Linked DNA regions of Homo sapiens. The protein of the gene in region 3 interacts with the protein of the main gene of each other region in a pairwise test. Each region holds a gene or a part of one and is shown on either strand. Other genes may lie near its edges.

Evidence for each region. Proteins that work in one complex are often made in the same cells at the same time.
Region 1: the proteins of LMO2 (region 3) and DYDC1 interact in binary tests that used the Homo sapiens proteins (3 or more experiments, as listed by UniProt).
Region 2: the proteins of LMO2 (region 3) and RCN1 interact in binary tests that used the Homo sapiens proteins (3 or more experiments, as listed by UniProt).

The regions. Positions count from the first base shown.
Region 1 is NC_000010.11:80,339,728-80,346,760, reverse strand, and holds part of DYDC1 (DPY30 domain-containing protein 1), read left to right. Parts: intron 1-1,945; coding exon of another isoform or gene 1,946-1,978; exon of another isoform or gene 1,979-2,016; intron 2,017-4,399; coding exon 4,400-4,492; intron 4,493-7,033. Other genes in the region: DYDC2 (DPY30 domain-containing protein 2), read right to left, coding at 1,946-1,978. UniProt on the Homo sapiens protein: Functions as part of axonemal radial spoke complexes that play an important part in the motility of sperm and cilia. Plays a crucial role during acrosome biogenesis.
Region 2 is NC_000011.10:32,101,069-32,106,250, reverse strand, and holds the end of RCN1 (reticulocalbin-1 precursor), read right to left. Parts: intron 2,971-5,182; coding exon 2,771-2,970; intron 1,887-2,770; coding exon 1,779-1,886; 3' UTR 529-1,778; downstream 1-528. UniProt on the Homo sapiens protein: May regulate calcium-dependent activities in the endoplasmic reticulum lumen or post-ER compartment.
Region 3 is NC_000011.10:33,861,076-33,868,108, forward strand, and holds part of LMO2 (rhombotin-2), read right to left. Parts: intron 3,743-7,033; coding exon 3,527-3,742; intron 1-3,526. UniProt on the Homo sapiens protein: Acts with TAL1/SCL to regulate red blood cell development. Also acts with LDB1 to maintain erythroid precursors in an immature state.

The DNA of each region.
Region 1 (7,033 bases), on a different chromosome or scaffold from region 3:
TGGCCGGGGGCAGTGGCTCACACCTGTAATCCCAGCACTTCGGGAGGCTGAGGCGGGCAGATCACAAAGTCAGGAGATTGAGACCATCCTAGCTAACATGGTGAAACCCCGTCTCTACTAAAAATACAAAAAATTAGCCGGGCGTGGTGGCGGGCGCCTGTAGTCCCAGCTACTCAGGAGGCTGAGACAGGAGAATGGTGTGAACCCAGGAGGTAGAGCTTGCAGTGAGCTGAGATCGCGCCACTGCACTCCAGCCTGGGTGACAGAGTGAGACTCCGTCTCAAAAAAGAAAAAAAAAAAAAAAAAAAAAAAAAAAGAAAGGGAAGAGACACACATTGGTGAGGGTGTGGAGAAAAGTGAACTCTTCTACACTGTTGATGGGAATACAAATTGGCGCAGCCATTATGCAAAATGGTATGGGTGTATTTCAAAAAATTAAAAGCTACCATATGACCCAGTAATTCCTCTTCTCAGTATATATTCAAAGGAAATGAAACCAGCACCTTATAGAGACTACTTGCACTCCCATGTCCATTGCAGCATTATTTACAATAGCCAAGATTTGGAAACAACATAAATGTCTGTCAGTGGATGACTGGATAAAGAAATTGTGAGCTGATCACAGTGGCTCACACCTGTAATCCCAGTACTTTGGGAGGCCGAGGCCTGAGGATCACTTGAGGTCCAGAGTTCGAGACCAGCTTGGGCAACATAGGGAGACCTCATCTCTAGAAAAAATGTATAAATTATCCAGGCATGATGATGATGGCATGCACCTGTGGTCCCAGCTACTCAGGAAGCTGAGGTGGGAGGATTAATTGAGCCCTGGAGGTTGAGGCAGTGCCACTGCACTCCCACCTGGGTGACAGAGCAAGACCCTGTCTTGAAAAAACGTAAGATGTATTTCTCATGTATATCTTGTATATATATATCTCACATATATGTATCACATATATGTATATATAAAAGAATATTATTCAGCTTTAAGAAAGAAGTAGGTCCTGCCATTTGTGATGACATGGATGAAACTGAAGGACATGATGTTAAGTGAAATAAACCAGACATCAAAAGAAAAATACCACATGCTGTCTATGTAGAAATCTTAAAAAAAAAATGTTGAATACATAAAAAGAGAGAATAGAACAGTGGTTACCAAGAGGTGGAGTGGGGGTAGGCCTGGAAGAAGAATGAGGAGATGTAGGTCAAAATGTACAAAATTGCAATTGTGTAGTATGAATAAATGTAGAGATCTAAAGTACAGCATGAGGATGATAGCCAATAAGATTGTATTGTGTACTGGAAAATTTTTAAGAGAGTAGATTTTAGGTGCTCTTACCATACAAAAGTAACTGTCTAAGATGATGGATATTGAAATTGCTTACCTGTGGTAAGCATTCACTATATATATCAAAACATTATATGCATCTTCAATTTACACAATAAAAAGTTAAATCTTGACCCTGAGCTCAAAAATTCATAATATAACTGTTAAGCCATGGAACTGCTGTGTGGTAGGACATCAGGATATATTCAGCTTCTGTTTCTGACAAAAATTCACAGAATTGATGGTCCAGTTTACAAGAGTGAATGAAGGTCACTGTTGACACTGCTGGATCAATAACACATAATAGATTCAAATACTTTCACAGAGTAGCTGCTGTTGAGTAATATGATGAACACTTCCCGGCTTTAAACACTATTTTCTCATGAGCTTTGTAAATTTGTTCAGCTCAGCCTTTTTCTATTCCACATGTATTTTTATCACTGTCAGCTATGACACATCTTAGCAGATTTCACTGCAGGTTGTATTGAATCAGTGTTTCTACACGACTTTGAAAATGCTCTTGTCTGTAATTGTTCCATGAAGACTGTATTAGTCCATTTTCAAGCAGCTGATAAAGACATACCCAACACTGGGAAGAAAAAGAGGTTTAATTGGACTTACAGTTCCACATTGCTGGGGAGGTCTCAGAATCATGGTGGGAGGCGAAAGGCACTTCTTACATGGTGGCAGCAAGAGAAAATGAGGAAGAAGCAAAAGTGGAAACCCCTGATAAACCCATCAGATCTCGTGAGACTTATTCACTATCGTGAGAATAGCACAGGGAAGACCAGCTCCCATGATTCAGTTAACTCCTTCTGGGTCCCTCCCACAACACTTGGGAATTCTGGGAGATACAATTCAAGTTGAGAATTGAATGGGGACATAGCCAAACCATATCAAAGACTATTCATAGAGGTTTGGTTTTTCAGTCACTTCAAACTCAGCATTGACCCTTTCCATAAACAACAACTGAGCAGTGTTGGGAACATCTGTCTGCTTATCAGGAGCCAAGGAAAGCCACTCAGAATCATGTGCCTTGTTATTAGTTGACTACTGATGTTGCTCCCAGTGTCAACTCTGAGCAGCTGCTCTCACCAAAAGGCTAAAATCTTAGACAAGTTTGTTTTTTCCTGGACACATTTTTTTTGGCCACTGAAATAAAACATGTTTTAATTCACTCATCATTGGTAAATATCTTTCCTTGCTTTCATAACAAATGAGCCTCTTGGAACCCTACTTTTGTTGCAGACTTATTTTCATTTTTAATTTTTGTAAATAAATTCTGCTGTGATAATTCTGTTTTTGTTATTTTTATTTTTTTAAGACAGAGTCTCGCTCTGTCACCCAGGCTGGAGTGCAGTGGTGCGATCTCAGCTCACTGCAACCTCTACCTCCCAGATTCAAGCAATTCTCTTGCCTCAGCCTCCCAAGTGGCTGAGACTACAGGCACCTGCTACCACGCGTAATTTTTTTTGGTATTTTTAGTAGAGACAGGGTTTCACCATGTTGGCCAGGCTGGTCTTGAACTCCTGTCCTCAGGCCTTCCAAGTGCTGGTATTACAGGTGTGAGCCACCATGCCCAGCCAATTCTGTTTTACATTTTCTAATTTTTTTTGGCCTTTGTGCTCTGTGAGCTGGGACTATTGTGATGAGTGCTTAGTCTGGTAATGTTGATATTTATTATATTCTTTTGGTACAGTGGCACTGTATAGCAAGAAACATGTTTTGCCATTTAATTTGATGACAAAATAATACACACTCTAGTGTGCCTTAAAAGTGCGACATTCAAAATTCACTATTTTTCTTTTTTTTTTCTCAAAATTTTGTTTAGAGATGGGGGTCTCGCTATGCTGCCCAGGCTGGTCTTGAACTCCTGGCTTCAAGTAATCCTCCTGCCTCGCTCCTGAGTAGCTGGGATTACAGGAATAAGCCACCCATCCCTGGCTTTCTTGTTTTGACATAATGGATATAATTTTTTTAAATGTCACAGTATAGTGATACCATGGCACTCCAAACACTGCTGTTACAATGATGTTACTGCGGTTTGTAGTGTGCTGGGCAGCCAGGCAAAGTGGTGAGTGCACCACATGTGGTCTCTGTTATAACTACTACACTCTGCTATGGCAGCACAAAAGCGCTCGTAGACAATACGTAAACAAATTAGCATGGCTGTGTTTCAATAAAGCTTTAAGGATGCTGAAATTTACATTTCATACCGTTTTCCTATGTCATGAAATATTATTTCTTTTAAATTTTTTCTATTTAAAAATGTAAAAGCCATTCTTTCTTTGTAAGCTATAAAAAACAGGAGGTGGGTTGGCTTTGGCCCACAGGCTTTATTGCTGAACCCTATTCTAGTGTGACAGATATGCTGAGTTGGGAGCAAATATATTGTTGGTTAGTAATGATTTCAGATGATATTCTTTTTTCTTCTTTTCTTTTTTTTTTTTTTTTTTGAGAGGGAGTCTTACTCTGTTGCCTAGGCTGGAATGCAATGGCACAATCTCGGCTCACTGCAACCTCCACCTCCCAGGTTCAAGCGATTCTCCTGCCTCAGCCTCCCGAGTAGCTGAGATTACAGGCATGTGCCACCCTGCCCAGCTAATTTTTGTATTTTTAGTAGAGACAGGGTTTCACCATGTTGGCCAGTCTGGTCTCAAACTCCTGACCTCAGATGATCTGCCTACCTTGGCTTCTCAAAGTGCTGGGATTACAGGCATGAGCCATCAGATGATATTCTGAAGAGTTTCTCACCCACTCTTCCACAACCAGTGTGTGGCTATTTGAAGACCCATCTATGCTTAAAGAAATTTATCTGGAAAATTGTTGCAATCTCATTTGTTACTTTAAGAAGAAAAGGGAAAATAATTTTGTACAAATTGTGCTTTCTATAATTTGCAATTAAGGAAGATTAAAATCTTTTTTAAAAATTTTATGCTTCAGGAAGCATTTGTAGAAACTAAAGTATTAGTTGGATGTGACCATGTATTGTAAGTTTCTGAAATGAAGGTGGGTATAAACTTAATTATCTTGCAATTAATCTAACTGTAATATGACATATTTCTGAATATTCAGCAACAGCTGGCATTGCAGCTAGAGTTGGAAATGCAAGAAAAGGAGAGGCAGAGAATACAAGAACTACAGAGAGCTCAAGAACAATTAGGCAAGGTAATTTGAAGTTTTATAAATGTCAGTTTTATTTAAAACTCTCTAGAATCTTCAAACTGTTTATTTCAGCTGTTAGCAGAAGGACCATGGGATTTGTAGTCTGAAGACATGCCACATACTAGCTGTGTAAGCTAAACAAGTCTCATAACCTTTTTCAGTCTCAGTTTACCTGTTTCAAAACTAGAGCTAGCAGTATAATACTATTAGCAATGTCTCACTGGTTCCTTTTTTTTTTTTTTTTTTTGAGACGGAGTCTCATTCTTGTTGCCCAGGCTGAAGTGCAATGGCACAATCTCGGTTCACTGCAACCTCGGCCTCCCAGGTTCAAGTGATTCTCCTGCCTCAGCCTCCCGAGTAGCTGGAATTACAGGCACGCACCACCACGCCCGGCTGATTTTGTATTTTTGGTAGAGACAGGGTTTCTCCATGTTGGTCAGGTTGGTCTCGAACTCCTGACCTCAGGTGATCCACCCACCTTGGCCTCCCAAAGTGCTGGGATTACAGGCATGAGCCAGCGCCCCTGGCCGTCTCACTGGATTCTTATACAATCAAATACAATCATGTTTGTGAAACTTCTCTGTGAGCAGTAGGGTTCTCTAATAGTGATACCCTCAACATTTTAGTCAGGAGTTAGCTGTTCCTAGTTACAGTAGCTGATGTTGAATATTGAGGGTATTCCAATCTCGGAGGCAGTAGTATATGTCTTTATGTTAATGTATTAACAACAAGAATTTACATTTTAAAATATGTTCATACATGGACTTTCATTAAAATAAACTATGCAGTAACTTTTTTCTTTCTTTCTTTTTTTTTTTTTTTTTTTTTTGAGACAGAGTCTCACTCTGTCACCCAGGCTGGAGTGCAGTGGCGTGATCTCGGCTCACTGCAACCTCCACCTCCCGGGTTCAAGCAATTCTCGAGCCTCAGCCTCCCGAGTAGCTGGGATTACAGGCACGCACAACCATGCTTGGCTAATTTTTTGTATTTTTAGTAGAGATGGGGTTTTGCCATGTTGTCCAAGCTGACATGATACAATCATGTCAGGTCTCTAGTTTGACCCATATTTCCTGCATCCAAAAGCTATGAGTCATATAGACCAATATTCTAGATGACTGAGTTTATAGCTACTATCTCTTAATCAAATGTTTCTCCCCCTTTTTATTCCATAATTAAAGCTGAAAAAAGAAGCAGGTTTTATAGACAATGTTCATTATGTTTATTGATGCTTAGATGAGAGAATCATTTATTAAAGCAATATTTAAAAAGTGTGAATGGTGAATTAAATCAAAAAGTGAGATTTTTTTTAAAAGGATAAAAGCCCTATACATAGTTTTAAAAAATACAGATGCTGATGCGGTCTTAGTCTGAGTGTAGTGTGAGCACAGGGATATGCCTGTATGCACACATACACAAGCAGCCCCTTTCTCTTTAAGATTCACAAAGAAATAATGTTTAAGGTGATGGATATCTCAAATATCCTGATTTGATCATTACATATTGTATGCTTGTATCAAAATATCACATGTACATCGTAAATATGTACAGCTATTTATATCAGTAAAAATTAAAAATTAAAGAAATTTTGAAAAAGATTCACGGATCTAAACTGAAAGAGAAAATACAGGAACATATCAAGAAGGCAGTGATCAAAATAAAGGAATTTAAAGTATTTTTAATCAAAGTGACCTGATAGCTACATTAAAGTGCTTCAAAGTCCATAGGAAGGATTGGTCTCTATTTTATGGCTCCAGAGAGCCACACTCATGTTATTTTACTATCTCCAGACATCATCAGCTTGTGTGACCACTGCCAGAATAACTTTAGTAATTCCTATTTCTATAGGCTTATCATCCCTCACCATAGCATAGGTAGTCCCCTGCAAAGTACCACTCCCTCGCCCATTGCTCAGAGATGAGTCCACTCATGTGCTTTCCCTTGGCCTTCTTATGGCTGCAGACTCGCAATGTAAACTATCATGTGCAAAGGGAAGTTTGCTAGAAGGATTCTGGGTTGAAGGAAGGGTTTAACACATAAACTGTGAAGGACTCTGGTATCACTGGGCCTTTCAGACTTTGGGAGCAAGAGAATCAGATGCTACCAGGGCTCTCCCCTCTGCTGCTCCCTGGTTATTAGTTTCGCTCTTTCACTATGGGCTGCTTTGCTGCACATGGGTAGGGAACATGGGCCTTAACGGCTTCTGAGGCTTAGAATGTTGTGGCTTCTACCATCTAAGAGGAATGGATGCCTTGTTTTAGTTTCAGTTAAGAAAAGAATCTTGGAGAAGGATTCTGACTGGCTTAGTTTGTGTCAAATATCCATCTCTGTGGCAGGGGAGCATAGTCCTATAAGAATATGGATGTTCCCCATATAGCCTTGTGGATGCTGGATAAGAAGTTACCAGGAAAATGGAGTGGTCTTGGGAAAACAGTGCTGTTTATGTCCCTATCATTAGGGTGACCATATGTATGATCAAGAAATCACTGGTCTTCTAGCAGCCAAAACGAATCAGCTCAGGGTCAGTTAGGCCACCCTGCTGCTTTA
Region 2 (5,182 bases), 1.8 Mb from region 3:
CTTCAGAGGCAGAGCAGCCCTGCTGACACCTTGACTTCAGACCCTGGCCTCCAGAACCGTGTAAGTTTCTGTCACTGTAAATCCCCCACTTTGTGGCAATTTGGACAGAAGGCATGGAAATGAATACAAATAGTAATGCATGCCAAGAAGAAAATAAAATGGGGATGTGAAACCGAGATTCGAGTTGGGATTACTTTAAATAGTGGGGTCTGGAAAGCCCCCCTGAGGAAGTACCATGTGTTACCCGAGGGCGTGAGAGATGGGTATTCTGAATGTGAGGGGGCAGCAAGTGCAAAGGGCCCAACCTGGGAATGACCTTGGTGTGTCTGAGGACTAGAAAGTCTCTGGGGCCAGACTATAGGCGGTATGAAAGGGACAGTGGTAAGGAGATGATGCTACTGCTGGTAGGGGCCAGATCCCATAGGCCTCCTCCTACAGCGCCTCATAGGCCCAGGGAAGAAGTCCAGATTTTCCAGGTGCAACCTTTTTCAGGAAGATTTTATAGTTAAAATGACCTAGAAAAGTAAAGGCATTAAGTACATACATTTATTAAATTAGTAAATATGAGTCTATTCTGAACATTCTAGTAATTGGATGAAAAAAAACCCCAGAACCTTTATAATGTTATTCATGGGATCCAACCCCACTGTTTTATGCTATATGAATAATGTCACAAATAGCATCTGTGAAGTCAAACACCACAGGACACAGTAGAAAATCCTTAGGGGGATCCTTTATTTCATTCACTTCCTCCTTACAAGGTGAAATTTCAATCTGTACAGGTTGTGTCTGCCAGTTCAGTCCACAGCTCAGAGTATCACCTTGTCCTCATTCCATGGTATAAGCTGTTGCGGGGGGACAGGTCTGCGGGTCGTGGATTCACTGGACTGGATGGGACATGATCCAGAACTCCGCTCCGTTTGGCTTCCCAAGGATCCCACCAACTCATTCTAATCAGTGATCACTGAGGAAATGCATTGTATTCCTATTCACTATTTCAAAGATCAGGCCTACCTCATTGGCATATTAAGAAAGTTTTCTCAAGTATATTTAGTGTTTATCATTTTACTATAGTTCTTCAAATGTCTGACATTCATCTTTTCCCTACCTCTAAATTCCTTTCTTTTTCACATTATCTTTCTTGATTGCTTTTTAATAGAAAAACAAACAAAGACATGGATTTACTGTGCATATTAGCAGATCCATACTGGAAAATGCATGGAGGTTTCATATACACCACTTACAGTAAGTAATAACTCAGAGTATAAAGTCGAAAAGAAAGAATCTGAAATATTAGACTTGTTCTGAAATAAGCTTACCTAGGATGATACCACTTTCGCTTAATCAGAATTTCCCCTTTCCAACTATTTAACAGTGGCAAATATAAAAAATCTGGTAGTTAAAATACACAGCAGTCACTTCATATTACTGCCTCCCTCAACCCACTCACCTTCTGAAGAACAGGGCTTTTTCAAGTTTTGTTCCCCTTTAAGTTTTAATAGAAAAAAAAAAGTTTTAAGTCATGTTGTACCAATATATCCCCAGAAAGAATTGCAATTTACCAAGGTTTTCACGTGTTTTGAGAGAAATCTTACTGAAAGACTAGTGATGTCCATTTTCCAGTAAATACTGAGCGAAAAACAATTTTTATACCCCAATCTGAGGTATAAACTTGCTTTTTGTGGGATCACAACTGCTGTAAATTAGACAATTGTAGCAACAATCCAAGACAATAACAGAATGCCTATGACAGTCTGCCATATTCTGGTGAGTGTCTATCAAAGCTCATCATGATTTTTTGTGAGATCTTCCCCGTAATTGGTAGCTTGGCTTCCGACAAACATGTTCCAGTTCTCCAATATTTCCTCTTTAGTTAGCTTCTCATCCTATAGAAGAGATCAAAGAGCACTGTCATGGAAGCTCTGGTAACTGTACTAGTTCTGTATGATGTTCATGTCATTTCACTGATGTACAACATTTAAAATACTATATTTAGTAATCCAGAAGCTACTGGGCACCTCCTTCATCTACCATGACTGCATTGCAAAACTCCAAATCGGAACAGCCTCTTGCTATAAAAACCGTGCTAACGTGTCAGGGAAGTCCCCGAGTAATTCAGAAGCTAGAATCCATTTGTGCCCACAAGCAGTGTTGGTCTTCCCAAAATAGGCCCTCAAGAATGCCACTTTCCTCTTACAGCCTCGCTGCCTAAACTGACTGTTGGCATAACCTGAGAATTTGGGGGCAATCAGCAAAGTGGGGAATAGGCAGGACATTTTTCTAAATGTATTGATTTGTTTATTTGGATGTTTATCAATAGATACCGAAGTACTAGGCATTAAAGCCAGAAACCTGAGCTTGCCTGAGGATGTCTGGGCTTTAATGGGATGGGCTTCCTTGTTCCTGACACCTCACAGATGTTTGATAAGTATTTGGTGACAATGAATGGATAAATAAGCTGATCCTAGGGCAACACGGGGTATACTTCTTAAATCGTGTCCTGCCCACAAAGTTCTGCAATCTTAGGAAATGTGACTTAATGTAAGTCTGTGGCTCACAGCTGACTTTCCAGGAAAGTTGGGGCCTAATAATTTTACTGTGGGTTATCACGGTATTAGCTCAAGTTTACAGGTCTCCACTGTAGGACAAGAAGGAAAAGTCAATAAAGACATGGCCACATGGGTCAATGCTATCGCCGAAAAAGCAAACAAAACCGATCTTATGTAAACTGTCTCCCTTCAATCAGTGATTCCAGAAGAATGGGAAATACCTTGTTTTTGTCTGATTCATATACCAGATGCCTGGCCTCAGCCTGTGCATGATCATAATCTTGAGGGAGGATCCAGTGGCGAATCTCATCTTTGTCTAACTTCCCGTCCTTGTTCAGATCCCGGAATTCGTTAAACTGCTCCCGTTCTGATAAAACCCAGTCTGGCTCAGGGCCATTCTCCTCATGGGAAAACATATCCGCTAGAAGGGAAGGTTATTGTTGGTTACAAAGGAAAGTGGGAAGGTAAACCTCCCCCACCCCCATAAAACAAACTTGACCTCCTGAGCTTTAGGAAAGGCGACAACCAATCCAGAGACCTAACTCAAACAGCTGGTAGGCAGCTTCTTGGGGATAATGATGCAGTAATTTATTCATGATGAAGGCCATGTGGTGGAGTAGAAAGAACTGAGTTTAGAAGCCAAAAGATAAATCCCGGCTTTTGACTTAGTTCAGTGACTGAGCCTGAAGTTTCCTTGTCTGTAAAATGGAGATGATAATTTATAAATCATGGGGCTATTATGATCAAATGTGCCATTTTGATGTAAAAGCCCTCTACAACCCAAACTGGCACTACATAAGCGAAAACTAATAATAATGACTAACATTGAACACTATGGTCCAGATACTGTATAAAGTGTTCTACACACAGTTTTCATTTGATTTTCACATAACAGCCTTACAAAGTGAGTGCTGTTATAATTCCCATTTTACAGATGAAAACAATGAGGTAAAGTCTTACCCAATGACCCACAGCTCATATGAGCTGGAGGCTGCACAGGAACATGGTCACTCTGCTTTCAACCCAGAGTCTTAGCCACTGTGTTTAGTACTATTGTTTATATCATTTCCAAAGGGCTTTCACTTGTCATTATATTTCATCCTTATAACAATTCTACAAGATGGGTCATTATCCCCATTGTACAAAATGGCAAGGAAAAGAAAAAGGAAACGTTTTTGCATTGTGTGTGTGTCAGTAGCTCTTGGAAAAGAGAGATACCCTGCAGGCAGTTTCTCTGTCACGGAAGCAGAGCTTGGAAATGTCAGGTGGTGAATGAAGCAGGTAGTAAGTGAAGGAAAAAAAAAGACAAGACCCTTGACTACAAGGTAGACCCCTAACTGACATGTCTACATTGTTTTTGAGAAAGAGTTGTAATATGTATTAGCTAATTCGAGCTTCATCGAATCCTGTAAAAATGGGCTCACTTTTTTTCCCCCATTTTACAGATGAGGAAGCTGAGGTTTGAAGCCATTACATGATTACCCCAGGGTCACACAGCTAATTGGTGAAGGTAGGGTTCCTAATTCCAGTGCTCTTCCTACTACCACCCCCCACCACACACTTTCCACTTGGTGCCGCTTGAAGAGAAGCCTCCCCGAGAAGTGAAATGACGAGTCAATACATTGGGTTTCCTCTGCCTGTGAGTCACTAGGTATTCGATTTTCAAGCGCAACGCCTCCACCTCCCTCTCCCTATTCACTGTAAAGAATGGGATGCTTCTTTTAGGCAAAGCCACTCAAAGAGTTCTGCCTCTGACTTTGCACCATTTCAATGCACAGTTCCGGAGGGCTGGGCAGAGCGCACACTTTCAATCAAAAGCACTACATTGTTTGTTTTGATCATGCAGTCTTTGCTGTCAGTCTCATTTCATCCCCAGTGCCACAGTAAGAGGTCTGCGCCTCCGAACGTGACCCTCGCACGTGGACCCAGCAAGAGGAAGGCTCAACTGCTTGCTCTGATGAGGGAGCTGTCAGCATATGTTATTCTATCAGGGTAGTGCCACCAAGATCACTTTAATTACTGTGGCGAGAGCTACCTTGTCTGTTACCAATGACACACAAGGAACAGTGTTTGGCTCATGATCAAACATAATTTCTAATGATTAGAGGAAAGTCTGCTCTTCATTGCTGAAGGCACTTGTTCTCGTGTCTGGGATGGCAAAGTAATACAACCACAAAACCAGAGACAGCAACTCAGGCTCTGAGTTTTACATTTAAAGGTAATTAATGGCTTTGATTAAAAATCTGTACAAAAATTATACATATTTCATTTCTCTTTTCATAGGTCAACACCTAAACCAAATGATTTTCCAGCTTTTACTTTATTGAGACTTGGGAAAAGAGCTGCCATGAGAAGGGAGCCTGCAGCTGGAGCCATGTGCCATAGCAGGTGGTGAGGATCAAATGGAATTGTCCTTGTTGCCTGCTCTAGTCCTTTCTAGCGGGGGGTTGGGCTGGGGGGGATTTGGGGCTACCAGGAAGGGCTCTAACCAGCAATGGTGGGTTCAGACCCAAATACATTAATTTGACACTATAGGACTCCCATCCAAAGGATGGGAAACGAGGGGCACAAAATGAGCATATTATTGGGCAATTGTGCACTCTGTAAAGCATTTATCTTTCTAAGAAGAATGC
Region 3 (7,033 bases):
AAAACAACCAAACGAAGCATGTCAGGGCACCCATGGTCAAGGGCTAAGCCAACGCTGGTTATGTTTTAACACATCTTGGGTGTATTCCCAGCTGTGCCAGTCTTGCTGCAGGAAGTAATTTTCACTCGTGGCTGAAAACATAGCATGTTAGCAGGTGGTTTCTACATAAAACCTTTAGGACAGTTTTAGGTGAATGCTTGCTCTTATTGGAAGTTCTGGTTGATTTCAGGATATCAGAGAATCAGTGGGTACATTCTGAGAGGTTGTAGGGGACCTAAGGGCAGTTGACACATTTTGCAATATTTGGGCGAGATTAATGGAATTGACAAGAGGTGGTCTGTGAGTGGAGAGCTCATTGTTCGGGCCAGGGCCAGCTAATTTGCCTCTGAATCCTGCTTTCCATTTGAAGATCTCTGAGTGTTTTCAAAGCACCGCCTGGGAGCAAACTCATTACTGGGGGGAGAACATTTTATCCCAACGTAGCAGATGGTGGAGCTGCAGGTAACCGCCACATTGGAGGTCACAGAGTGGAAAGACAGTTCTGGTTTCCTGACTGCTCTGTAAGTTAAGTTTGGGCCTGAGCAAGGATGAACGACTGAGAAAACAGTGTGCATGGAATGAATCCAACTGCCTGGGGTGTGCGATCCTTAAGGAAGGAGGGAGCTTATTAAAGGGAAGTCAGGGGGTAAATTACAACCCACATCAGGCAGCTATGAAGGGAAGGACAAAGGACGAATATGTGGGAGACAAGTTCAGGTCCCAGCATGACCTCTAACTTGCCAGGTGACCTGAGCAAATGGAGTCCCCTGTACAGGCTTCTGTGACTTAAGCCATAAAGCAAGGGAACTGAAAAAGAAGGTCTCTGTAGCCCCTTCCAGCTCTGGGATTCGGAGATTCTAATATTAGTAAAAAATAAGCCGGGACTTGACACCTAACTTGAGCATTAACCTCTGGCACCAAGAATTGGTATCTTAGGCTGGATATCCCAGAAGCAGCCCCTGAGGCAAGGATTGATGTGCCAGTGATTTATGAATGAGGCATTCTCAGGAAAAACCTGGAAGGCAGCAGGGGAGGCTGGAGGGAAGGGGAGGAAGCCAAGCCAAGTTGTATCCTCAGGCAAAGTCCCTCAGAGGGGAGGGACCCTGGAATATAAGTTATGCCTGGCTCCAGGCAAGGCTGCGGGGCTTGGTACTCCCACCATGTCTGTCACTGGTTAAGGTCCGTTGGGGGTCTAGTTGGGGCAGGCATACTTCTGGCTCTAACAGATTCAGGTGCTGGCTGTTAAAAGCAAAACCACTGCCATCACCGCCACCCCACCACTCCCAGCACACAAGAATTAGTGAAAAGGGATCCAAGGAGATCTGGCTCAGCACAGACATGAACAGCTGCTCTTGGGTTCCCAACAATACAACACAGCAGCAGAGTTGAGGTTCTGCATGGGGGTCTCATGAATGTTTGAAGCTAAATGTCGGAAAAGAACTGTAACAGGCAACTCAGCCATTGGAAATCCTCACGGGGACAAGTTATCCTAGGGGTGAAGAACTCAAACACATTAGAGGGCCCGTTCAGTTACTCCTCCAACTTGCCTTGTTAAAAGATCCTGCCAGATATACTAAGAATGCCAGTAAACAAGACCTTGGCTAAAGGACCATCCCTGACGCAAAAGACAATTTTTCTCCTCTGTCAAGAGATGTCCCATCTTAAGCTCTCTGCTGCCCATTTTAATAACAATAATATAAATATTAAAGAATGGCTGGAAATGCCTGCACTAATGCAGAGTTAATTAACATGTTGCCTAGGAATGTGGCAGGGAGAAGAATTATTTCATGTCACCAAGACACAAGTTAATTAACATTGGGTTCTCCCAGACTGTTTTTTTTTTCCTCTCCTTTTTGAAAATGGAAAGGATTAACAAGCCCAGGCAGCACTGGTTTTATTCCTGAATGTTATATAAAACGGTAGAGATAGGGAGAAGCTGGGGCTCTTCTGACCTTACTCTATCTGCACTTCAGTTAATAAGATTCAAATGATTTGACAGGGATGGAGTCAAGGGTCCGATGGGAATCATTTACCCGTCTGCCCTCTCACTGACTTGGCAAACTGGGAGTGAGCAAAACCAGGTCTGTATTTATCCAAGTTCTATTTTCTGTGACTTAAAAAAAAGAAAACTGACCAAAATTATAAGCATGATCATTGCAAAATCCTACTTATTTTCTCGGAACCACCATATCTGCAAGGACTGCAAGAACTTTATCTGGGAATTCAAGGACAAAAAGCTTCTTCTAACAGTCTTTAGGTAAAGCTTCCTTCACTGTGAAACTGCCTGCAGTTTTTTTGGTTTTGTTTTGTTTCTATAATGTAAAATGCTCTGAGGGCAGGTTTGGGAGGAAAAGCTGGCCCAGCAGCCAAGGGCGCTGAGGTCTCAACAAGCTTCCATGGGTTGGATGGTCCTGGTGTATCAGGGAAGCATGCTTCACAGACCCTCTGCTCCAGGAAAACGGAGAAATACTGACAGCTACACAGTTGAGCAGATCTGACAGTAGAGGGCACAGAGACAGTTACCTCCACAGCAGCTCATCGGAAACTAGAAACACTAGTACATTCTAGGCAAAGGCTTTCACACAGTGCTGGAAAATTCGGATGGCCAATAGGATGGCCCAGAGCATGGGAGATGTCCTCAGCTCCTGTCTTACTTGGTGTTGTCGAGTTCCTATTTTACTCTTCCATTCTTCCATCCCTTTGCTCATTAGATTGGAAAATAATGATTATGTAAGAGCAGCTAACATCTATTTGATCCATACCAAGCCAAGTAGTTTATCTGCATTATTCCATCAAATCCTCCCCACATCCTTAGAGGTAGGTGCTATTATCATCCCCATTTTACAGATAAGGAAATCGAGGCTTAGGAAGGTTAAATAACTTGCCCAAGGCCACCAAGCTGGGAAGCAATGGTATTGGGACTCAAACCTCCAACTGCCTACAGGGCCTTTGCCTTTCTGCTCTTCGAAGACTGCCTTCCTGCTATGAGTCAATGCTTGGAGCTCCATATGCTTTCTATTTTTAAATTTCTCATCATATAATACTGGAGTCATACAAAAAAAATTTATAACATACATATATGTTCTGAAGCATTCAAATGAGGTCCTCAGAGCCCACCTCCAAACTTAGAAACACTCCCAGTCCCTCTGATCCTCCGTGTGTACTCCTCCTCAATCCCATCCCCTAGCTTCTCCCGCTCCCCAAGGGAAGCACTTTTCTGAATTTTGGGTATACAATTCTCTTGCCTTTAAAGATATTAGTATTTTACCACATAGGAACGTAACCCTGAGAACATGCTTCTCAAACAGGAAGAAATGCCCTCTGCTTCTCAGCACAGGAGCTGAGACTCAGCCTCTGCAGTCTGACCTCTTTCTATAGGTGGTGTCCGAGCCTGGAGCAGGGTAAGGGGCAACACACACCGACTGCAGATGTCCATGGACCACCCAGCCTCCCTTCCGAGGGCCCAGTGGAGTGCCGGGGAGGGTACCTGAGATAGTCTCTCCGGCAGAGCTTCCGGCCCAGTTTGTAGTAGAGGCGCCGCCCCACCTCACCCAGCCGGCAGCCACAGAGGTCGCAGCTCAGGCAGTCCTCGTGCCAGTACTGGTCGATGGCCTTCAGGAAGTAGCGGTCCCCAATGTTCTGCTGGCAGCCGCCGCATGTCAGCAGGGATGGGGGGATCTGCAGCACCTCATCCACTGGTTCCCTGGAGAGAAGGCCAAGCATCAGGGACAGCCTCACCAGAGTGAGACCAGCACCGAGGGTCCGAGATCGTTTTGGGCCAGACAGGGCATCTCACCTGACTGCCTTTCAGTGACCTAAGGGAGAAGGGACAGGACAACACATCCCTTGGCCAGACTGCAGAGTCCCAACCAACCTTGGGTTAAGACGGGAAAGAGCCAGACCTTACTCCCTAGATGTCTAAGAAGTAAACACAGGGCACCAAGAGGCATCAAAGGCAATTGCAGGTGGCACTGTGCCCCTGCCCATGCCCAGCACTACCTGGGCACCTCTGGTCTCCTTCTGCTTTTTCCCACTCTCCCCGCTGACTCTATCTTCACAGATCTCCCTCATTTTCCTCCTCCCATAACCTGGACACCCAAGGGCACTGCCTAACCTCAAAGGACGCACTCTGGACTAAAAGAGTCGCTCACTGCCAGGGCAGCAGATGACCCAGAGTGCTAAGAATCTGCAAATCCCCAGTGCCATCCTCCCTCCAGCCCTAACCAACTGCACAAAAGCAGAGGTGAGGAAGAAAGAAGAATGAGACCAAAAATTATTTTAGGTTGCTTTCTCTTTCCAAAATCAAAATTCCATCAGGACATAATAGGAATTCTCCTAATTTTACTTTTTTACAGAAATTCCATTTTCCATTCTTCCTACTGAAGGAATACTTGGAGGAAAATCCCATATCGTAAGGCCATTGTTACACGAAGGACATCAAATAGGCCTTTCTTTCCTTACCTGAACATTTTTATAAGAGTAAAATTGATTTGGATAAAGTTGATTTGAGGAAGAAAATGAAGTGGGGGCAATGATTATTTCAAAGAGAGTGGAAGGCAATTAAACAGACACTGACATCTCAATCCAGCAATTGTTAATAGGCTGTGACACGTGTTCTTTCGTTAATACGCCATGCATAGCATCTCCTGTTCACTTTGCTTCACTGGAATCTGAATACATTTTTACATTTAAAAATAAATAACTTTGCTAAAAGAAAATAAAGGAGTGGAAGGAATTATTCTAGTGTCCCCCACATGGGACACAGCAAACACTTAATACGTGTTGATTTATAATAATTAGCAAGTGTTCTCTGGAACCTTACTTAAACACAAATCTATTTCTTAAAAATCTATTATGTTTCAAAAAACAGACCTTCTTCCATCTGTAAAATTCCCAAAGGGAGTTTCCTCCTGGGTACCCTGCAGGTATAAATCCATGTCTCCTATTTCTAACTGGTACTAACTTACCAGGCGACCTTGTGTCCTAATTGGTCTGTGCCCATAAAGCCCAGCAGCCATTATACTTGGGGACAGGAGGCTAGGTGGCTCAATGTCTATAACACTCTGACAACTTCAGGTGATCCCGTCATGTGAAGTATGAAGTGTTCCTTATGAATATTTAGGAGTGCTAAAGCCATGCCCACACTTTCTAGACACAGTGTAACAGCACTTCATGAGACTATCATCTTTGGAACAAGAAAATGGGAAGCTCAAGTTAGTTTATCTGGGGAAAAAAAATGGCCAGGTACAGTGGCTCACGCTTGTAATCCCAGCACTTTGGGAGGCCAAGGCAGGAGGATCACTTGAGCCCAGGAGTTTGAGGCCAGCCTGGGCAACGTGGCAAAATCCTGTTTCTACAAAACATATAAAAAATTGCCCAGGCTTGGTGGCATGAGCCAGTAGTCCCAGCTACCCAGGAGGCTGAGGTGGGAGGATCATCTGAGCCCAGGAAGTTGAGGCTGCAGTGAGCACTGCACTCTAGACTAGACAACACAGTGAGACCCTAGCTCAAAAAAATTCAAAACTATAGTTTTTTGTTTGTTTGTTTTGAGACACAGTTTCACTCTTATTGCCCAGGCTGGAGTGCAATGGCACAATCTCGGCTCACTGCAACCTCCACCTCCTGGGTTCAAGTGATTCTCCCGCTTCAGCCTCCCGAATAGCTGGGATTACAGGTGTCCACCACCAGGCCCAGCTAATTTTTTTTATTTTAAGTAGAGACGAGGTTTCATTCACTGAAGCCTTGCTTTCTTTCCTTTGTTTCTACAGATTGTATATAAGGACTGCCATTTCCCCTTCTAATAACTAATACCCTAGCTTTTTCATGTGTATCAACTCAGAGTTGCATCTCTTCTCTTTCCACAGCCCATGGTCTTACTCTGGGCTTTCAAAACCACTCATGGAACCTGGACGCACATTGGATGTCCCGATGTTGATGCTGCCAAAGGACTGTGAAAGAAGAGAATTTGCCCTTAGCTGGTGCAAAACTGCCTGGAATTCAAATGAACTGCTCTTGTTACTCACAGGGGAGGCAGTGGGGGCCACCAGTAGCACAGCAAGGGAATCTGTGTTCATGAATTCTGGCTGGCTTTCTGTCCAAATGTTTCATTTGCATATAGCTAGGCAAGTCTCCATCTGTAATTTGGAGATGCTGATTGTAATGACCCAAGCTGGATTTGAGGAAGTACACAATGAAGCATCTAGTAGGATACTGGACAACAGGAGGAATGTAAAGTAAAAGAGTTACGGTGATGGCCTGAGATGAGATGGAGAAGTAAAGTATAAGATATTGGCTCTGTCTTTCTATACTTAATTAATGATAATATCACATTATACTTAGTGGACAATCCAAGACAATGACTGAATTAGATTGATTCACCCTCAAATTAATATTTTATATTCTCCCAGACCCTTATCTTGAATATTACACCTGAGTATCATTTAAGCCTGGATTTCTGGGACAATCATAACAATTTCTAAGGGCATGGGGAGAATGTGCTGCAGCAATTTCTCAACTGGCTTGTCCCTCTTTGATCAGAATCTGTCTTCGTTGGGCAAATAGTGAAGTGAAGGAAGGAGCTGGTGAGCCTCCAGCAGTAGATATCTGTTGTATTAGGAAGTTAGGATGTTTCAGTTTCTAACCTCAGTGAAAAAGCACAAACTTTGAAAGAAGCAAACTTCCTTCAGGGAAATGAAACCTTCAGATTAATCTTCTATTGAAAGGATTAGTGACTAAATTCTGCTGATCAAAAAGGCATGAGGCACCAATTCATCCAATTCACTCCCTTATTGTGTTACTATGATCTTGCCCAGTCTCTGAAACTCAGAGCTCAGTTTTAAGTTTATTTTAAAAAAGTGATCAAACCACCCTTTAAACCCATTGTTTGCATAAACATACTTTTAAAAAGGAATGTTATTTTTCTCCTGAGAATTTGTTGAAGGAAGTGGGGGTTTTTGTTATAACAAACCTAGCTCATTACAGAACTGGTGTCTTA